Homo sapiens: one gene and its partner. The protein of the gene in region 2 purifies or fractionates together with the protein of the main gene of each other region. This does not show direct contact. Each region holds a gene or a part of one and is shown on either strand. Other genes may lie near its edges.

Region 1 (3,500 bases), on a different chromosome or scaffold from region 2:
TGTTTATTTGGGATAGAGCATTGCAGTGAAAATACATGCCACATGCCATAGTAGACTGTGTGGATATTCGCATATTCAGGGAGGTAAAGGAAGGCAAGGGTTTTGTTTTTTTTTTTTTTTTTGAGACGGAGGCTTGCTCTGTCACCCAGGCTGGAGTGCAATGGCACAATCTCGGCTCACTGCAACCTCCACCTCTCAGGTCCAAGCGATTCTCCTGCTTCAGCCTCCCGAGTAGCTGGGATTACAGGCGCCCACCACCACATCTGGCTAATTTTTTTTTTTTTGTATTTTTAGTAAAGTTGGGGTTTCACCATGTTGGCCAAGCTGGTCTAGAACTCCTGACCTCAGGTGATCTACCCGCCTCTGCCTTCCAAAGTGCTGGGATTACAGGCGTGAGCCACTGAGCCCCGCCTGGCAAAGGTTTTTAAAGGAAAAAAACATAATTGTTTTGAGATAATGATCCTTGGTTGCAAAGATCAATAACAAGATTAATGTCCGTCCAAGGTTAGACAGGCAGTTGCTGGGCAGATTATCCTTGCAGAAGTTTCTGTGTGCGTGTAAGGTTGTCATAGCCTTTGTGCAAGGTTGCAGTTTTGTGTGTGTGTAAGGTTGTCATAGCCTTTGTGCAAGGTTGCAGTTTCGTGTGTGTGTGTAAGGTTGTCATAGCCTTTGTGCAAGGTTGCAGTTTTGTATGTGTGTAAGGTTGTCATAGCCTTTGTTGCAGTTTTTGCCATCTTTAGTGACAGTTTTTGTTATCAGGCATGGAAGTATGAGAATCCTCTCTTCATAGCTTTCCCCAGCTCTATTTGTCAGGTTTTTTGGTTTGTTTGTATAACCCTAATGGCTCCATTTTTATTCTGACAAATTCCTTTTTTTTTTTGAGACGGAGTCTTGCTCTGTCAGCCAGGCTGAAGTGCAATGGCGCAGTCTAGGGGCTCACTGCAACCTCCGCCTCCCAGGTTCAAGCGATTCTCCTGCCTCAGCCTCCCGAGTAGCTGGGGTTACAGGCATGTGCCATCACACCTGGCTAATTTTTGTATTTTTAGTAGAGATGGGGTTTCACCATGTTGGTCAGGCTGGTGTCAAACCCCTGACCTCTTGATCTGCCCGCCTCGGCCTCCCAAAGTGCTGGGATTACAGCTGTGAGCCACCACGCCTGGCTATTCTGACAATTTTCACAATGGAAACAATTTAGGGCACTTGTGTACGGTTGGCTGGGCAACCCACCCGCCACAGGCCCAGCTGCCACTCTGGCCTGAGACATGCATCTTAAGAGTGATTTGGGTGGCTGGCACAGTGGCTCACGCCTGTAATCCCAGCACTCTGGGAGGCTGAGGCAGGCAGATCACCTGAGGTCAGGAGTTCGAGACCAGCCTGACCCATATGATGAAACCCCATCTCTACTAAAAAATACAAAAATTAGGCCAGACGCGGTGGCTCACGCCTGTAATCCCAGCACTTTCGGAGGCCAAGGCGGGTGGATCACCTGAGGTTGGGAGTTTGAGACCAGCCTGACCAACACGGAGAAACCCAGTCTCTACTAAAAATACAAAATTAGCCGGGCGTGGTGGCGCATGCCTGTAGTCCCAGCTACTCGGGAGGCTGAGGCAGGAGAATTGCTTGAACCCAGGAGGCGGACACTCCAGCCTGGGCAACAAGAGGGAAACTCTGTCTCAGGAAAAAAAAAAAAAAAAGAAATACAAAAATTAGCTGGGCACGGTGGCATGCACCTGTAATCCCAGCTACTCAGGAGGCTGAGACAGGAGAATCACTTGAACCCGGGAGGCAGAGGTTGCAGTGAGCCGAGATCGCGCCATTCCACTGCAGCCTGGGCAACAAGAGTGAAACTCCGTCTCAAAAAAAAAAAAAAAAAAAGTGATTTGGCTCAGAGATAAGTGCTTATTTGCCTTGGGATTAACCAGGATGAAACCTGTCAACCTGTGGTTGGGTTACGTTTCCTGTTCTCTAAGTCTACATTTCCTCATTTTTTAGCATCTGAAAGCAGGTGAATTTCCCCAGCCTGATTTTCCAGATGACTACAATTTGGGAGACATTTTCCTAGGAGTGGAGTATATCTTCCATCAGTGTAAAGAAAATGAAGATTACAATGACGTCCTGACTGTAAGCGGGGATGCTGAAATCATATAACCTGGCTCATGGAACATGGGCCTTGCAAAGGGGTCAAGATCACAACCCTGCATCCATGTGTGTCCGTGGGTACCGTAAGGGCTACTGGGGGAAGAACCTGTAAGCAGGGTGTGAGGAGCACCCAGGCTGGGTAGGGACTGCATGCCCCATGCCACAGTTGAAGGAGGGAGAGAACACGCTGTGAAAACACAGAAGCTCCCAGAGAAGCCTTCTCAGCTTTTATCTCTGGAGTAGAGCAGACTATGTTGAGCTAACACAGACCTGCTGAATCAGCTTCTTTCTGAGCTGCCAGAAGTACAGAAGTTGGAGCCTCCACCACCTTCCAGATCTGTTTCTCCTCAGTGTAATCCACCTATGGGTTCTTCCTGCCCACTGCACAGACAAAACCAATTCACTGCAATTGTGGTATTGCAGTAGAGAAAGAGTTTAACACAGAGCTAGCCAAGCAGAAAGGCTGGAGTTATTATTCAACTCAATCTCCCAGAGAACTCAGAGGCTACAGTTTCTACAGGCAATTTGGCAGGCAGGGGCTAGGGAATGCCTGCTGCTGATCGGCTGCAGACGGACCATGGGGTGTCAACGATTTTTGTCCCCTGAGTCCGCCTCTGCGTGGAGCCACGGGATCAGCTGAGTCATGAGTCTCAGGTCCAGGTGGAGTCTGTAGGTTGCCAGAACTCAAAAGTCTGAAAAACATCCCAAAAGACCATTCTTAGGTTGTACTATTGACGTTATCTTATTGGGGAGCAATTGGGGCGGTCACAAATCTCGTGACCTCTGGCTGCGTGAGTCCTGAGCAGTAGGGAATTACAGCAGGGCAAGCTGGGGAAGCAAGGCCTGCGGGCTGGTTCTCCTCAGGACACCTACATCTGAGCAGAATTCAGGCCCCTCCCATCATCCTAATCTTGTGGCCCTTCACAAGCTTCACAGAGGTGGCTTCGGTCTTGAGCAAGGAGGGGATTCGTTTTAGGGAGGGATGATTACTATTCTTGATTTAAAGTTAAACTCTAGATTAAATTCCTCCCGTGGTTAGCTTGGCCTGTGCCCGGGACTGAGTGGGGACAGCCACGCAAGTTAAACTCTAGATTAAATTCCTCCCGCGGTTAGCCTGACCCGTGCCCGGGACTCAGTGGGGACAGCCACGCAAGTTAAACTCTAGATTAAATTCCTCCCGCGGTTAGCCTGACCCGTGCCCGGGACTCAGTGGGGACAGCCACGCAAGTTAGACTCTAGATTAAATTCCTCCCGCGGTTAGCCTGACCCGTGCCCGGGACTCAGTGGAGTCAGCCACACAAGTTAAACTCTAGATTAAATTCCTCCCGCGGTTAGCCTGACCCGTGCCCGGGACTCAGTGG
Region 2 (3,500 bases):
GTCCCAGCTACTTGGGAGGCTGAGCTGGGAGGATCACTTGAGCCTAGGAAATCGGGGCTGCAGTGAGCCATGTTTGGGCCATTGCACTCCAGCCTGGGTGACAGACGGAGACCCTGTCTCAAAAACAAAAAAACTTTATTGGTTCAAACAGCAATTCCTTTGAACTTAGAACAGTGTCTAGCACATAACTAGCTAGCTACATGTTTACTTACTAATAGTAGTTACAGTAATAGTAGTAAGAGTAGCAGCAGCAGGGCAAGAACAGCAAAATGAAAAACTTCAGTAAATCCCCTGGACTCTTTTTTTTTTTTTTTTGAGACAGAGTCTCACTCTGTCACCCATACTGGAGTGCAGTGGCACAATCTCGGCTCACTACATCCTGACCTCTGGTGATCCACCTGCCTCAGCCTCCCAAAGTGCTGGGATTACAGGAGTGAGCCACCGCACCTGGCCATGGACACTTTCTGATTGAGCTAAATGTTACTTTTGTTCCTCATGTAGAAAAACCTGGAAATTGAACTCCTGAAACTAGAAAAAGATACAGCAGATGTTGTTCATCCTTTCTTTTTGGGTAAGTGGTTTGGTTAAGTGGATAATCACTGGAATTTCAACTTTTTCTTGGATTACTGTAAATAAGCACCAGTCAGTCAAATTATGATACACCATCATTTTTCCAGGTGTTGTCCCAAAGCTAATGAAATCTTGTATTTCTATGCTGAAATAGAAGTTCTGTTGGCTTGAGTAGTACAAATAGCATAAAAAGTCACCAAATTGGCTCTTCAAAGTCAGGAGAACTTGAAAGACAAAGTCTGAGGAACTTTTCAGATTAAAAGAGACTAAAGGGACATGACAACTAAAGCACTGTATGATCATGGATCGATTTTTTATTTTAATGAGATGGGGTCTTCCTATGTTGCCTAGGGTAGTCCTGAATGGCTCAAGCAGTCCTCCCAAATCACCCTCCCAAGTAGCTGGGATCACAGGTACATACCACCATGGCTGGCAATGTTTTGAATATTTGATGAGAAAATGTTCTTGTGGCCAGGCGTGGAGAGTCACGCCTGTAAACCCAGCACTTTGGGAGGCCAAGGTGGGTGGATTGCTTGAGCCCGGGAGTTCAAGACCAGCCAACATGGTGAAACCCTATCTCTACAAAAAAAATACAAAAACTAGCCAGCATTGTAGCATGTACCTGTAGTGCCAGTTACATGAAAGGCTGAGGCAGAAGGATTGTTTGAGCCTGGGAGGTCGAGGCTGCAATGAGTTGTGATCGTAGCACTCCACTCCAGCCTGGGTGACAGAGTGAGACCCTGTCTCAAAAATTAAAATTCTTTTTGCTGTAAAGGACATTATTGGGATACTTAGTGATGTTTAAATATGGACTGTATTAAATATTGGTAGTATTGTATTAATGTTATTTTTTGAATTTGATAATGTGCTGTAGTTATATAGGAGAATGTTCCTCTTCTTGGGAAATACATGCTAACGTTTTACAGGTAAAAAATATCATGCTGTCTGCAGCTTACTCTAAAGTGGATCAGCAAAAATTAGAGAGAGAGAGAGAGAGAGAGAGAAGAGAGAGAAAGAAGATAAAAAGAAAATGTAGCCAAATGTTAATAATCGGTGAATAAGTAAAATGTATGTGTGAGTTCACCAAGCTTTTTTTGAAACTTTTCTGCAAATCTGAATTTTTCCAAAGAAGAATTTTAAAGAAAGGTCAATTGGCAGCCATTAACTGAATGGGGAAAATAATGAGATAATCAGAAATAGCTTGTAGGATGACTTTTTTTTTTTTTTTTAAGAGTGTGTCACTCTGTAACCCAGGCTGAAGTACAGGTCGCTGTAACTTCAACACGTGGTTTCAACTGATTCTCTCAAGTAGCTAGGACTACTGGCATGTGCCACCATGCCCAGCTAATTTTTGTTTTTTCAATTTTTTTGTAGAGATGAAGTCTTGCTATGTTGCCCAGGCTGGTCTCGAACTCATGGCCTCAATTCTCCCGTTTCAGTCTCCCAAAACACTGCGATTACAGGTATGAGCTAGAGCACCAGCTAAGGTGACTCTTTTTCGATGGTCTTTTATAGACTATTAGAGTCAGGGATAGGAAAAAAGACTTTGTGTTAAGAATATAGCTCTGGCTATAAGAACTGAATAAGAAGTAGAGATGAGAAACACAGAGAAAGAATTTAGCACTAGATTTGGTTATCACTAGGAAAAGAGATAATAGAAATATATTAGATATACAAAAACCGACTAAGAGAAAGTTGTTGAAAATGAAATTGGTATTGGTATTAAAGACAGCAAAAAGGAGACAGGAGGGTAATGATAGGATGAATTTTTGACATGGGTAGTGTCAAACCAAGGCAAAGAAGAAATTATTCTGTTATTTGTCCTATTGCTAACTATAATTACTGTTTTTTAATTTGTATAGCTCAGAAGTGTCATACTCTGCAAAGCATGAATAATCATTTGGAAGCAGTGCTGAAAGAGAAGAGATCCCTTAGGCAAAGACTGTTGAAACCCATGTGCCAGGAAAACTTACCTATTGAAGCTGTTTATCACAGGTTAGACTGAAAAGTAGAAATTAACAGTTACACCTGTTTTCTGAGTTTACTTTTTGTTTTGCAGTTACTTTGTAGCAGAATTCATAAAACAATTAGTGATTGTATTTGTTAACATTATTAATGGTGATATATTAAATCAGAAAGAAAATCTTTGCTTTTAAACCATTATACCTATGGCAAAAAGGAAGAACTTGGCCATCGTGTTTTGGGAATTATAAATTATGAGTTTAATGAAAGAAATTAGATCCATAACATGTAACAATAAAAACTGTTTGTATGTGAAGTAAATTCATTGTTGTAAAGTACATTCATTGTTGAGTTAATGTTGCCTATATGTAAAAATTCTATTGGCGGGGTTTAACTGGGGCAGATGAAAACACTATCAACTAAGGGAGGAAAAAACCTGGATTCTGTTCTCATCTCTACTGTTTATATGCCTCAAAGCCTTGAGCAAATGATTTACATTTTTGCCTTAGTTTCCCAATAAATAGAATAGAGATGAGTTCTATTGCCCTCTTCCTCACAGAGTATTACAAGTATCAAATTGAAGATGTAGATTATGACTAATGATAAATACTAGCCTGGACAACATGGCAAAACCCTGTTTCTACAAAAAAAAAAAATATAAAAATTAGCAACACATGATGGAACACACCTGTATTCCTGAGCTGGGAGGGTGACCTGAGCCCAGGAGGTCAAGTCTGCAGTGAGCTGTGATTGCACTAGCCTGGGTGACAGAGTGAGACCCTGTCTCAAATAAATACGAAGCAAGCATCTGGGGATCTCATTGCTAACTTTCTCCGCCAGTGCCTCACTAGCTTAAGCAAATCAGTATCTTAAGTGTCAGATTTTTTATTTTGTAGGAAAATAATAGATATACAAAAACTTATTCTTCCAAAAAAACAAAACAAGGCTGGGCACAGTGGCTCATGCCT

The links. The genes of interacting proteins can lie anywhere in the genome.
Region 1: the proteins of HAUS2 (region 2) and YBEY purify together in Homo sapiens (affinity purification with mass spectrometry; one large-scale study listed by BioGRID and IntAct). This does not show direct contact.

Annotation. Positions count from the first base shown.
Region 1 is NC_000021.9:46,289,342-46,292,841, forward strand, and holds part of YBEY (endoribonuclease YbeY), read left to right. Parts: intron 1-1,992; coding exon 1,993-2,121; coding exon of another isoform or gene 2,122-2,148; exon of another isoform or gene 2,149-3,177; intron 3,178-3,500. UniProt on the Homo sapiens protein: Single strand-specific metallo-endoribonuclease involved in rRNA maturation.
Region 2 is NC_000015.10:42,558,838-42,562,337, forward strand, and holds part of HAUS2 (HAUS augmin-like complex subunit 2), read left to right. Parts: intron 1-501; coding exon 502-571; intron 572-1,944; coding exon of another isoform or gene 1,945-2,033; intron 2,034-2,432; coding exon 2,433-2,565; exon of another isoform or gene 2,566-2,853; intron 2,854-3,500.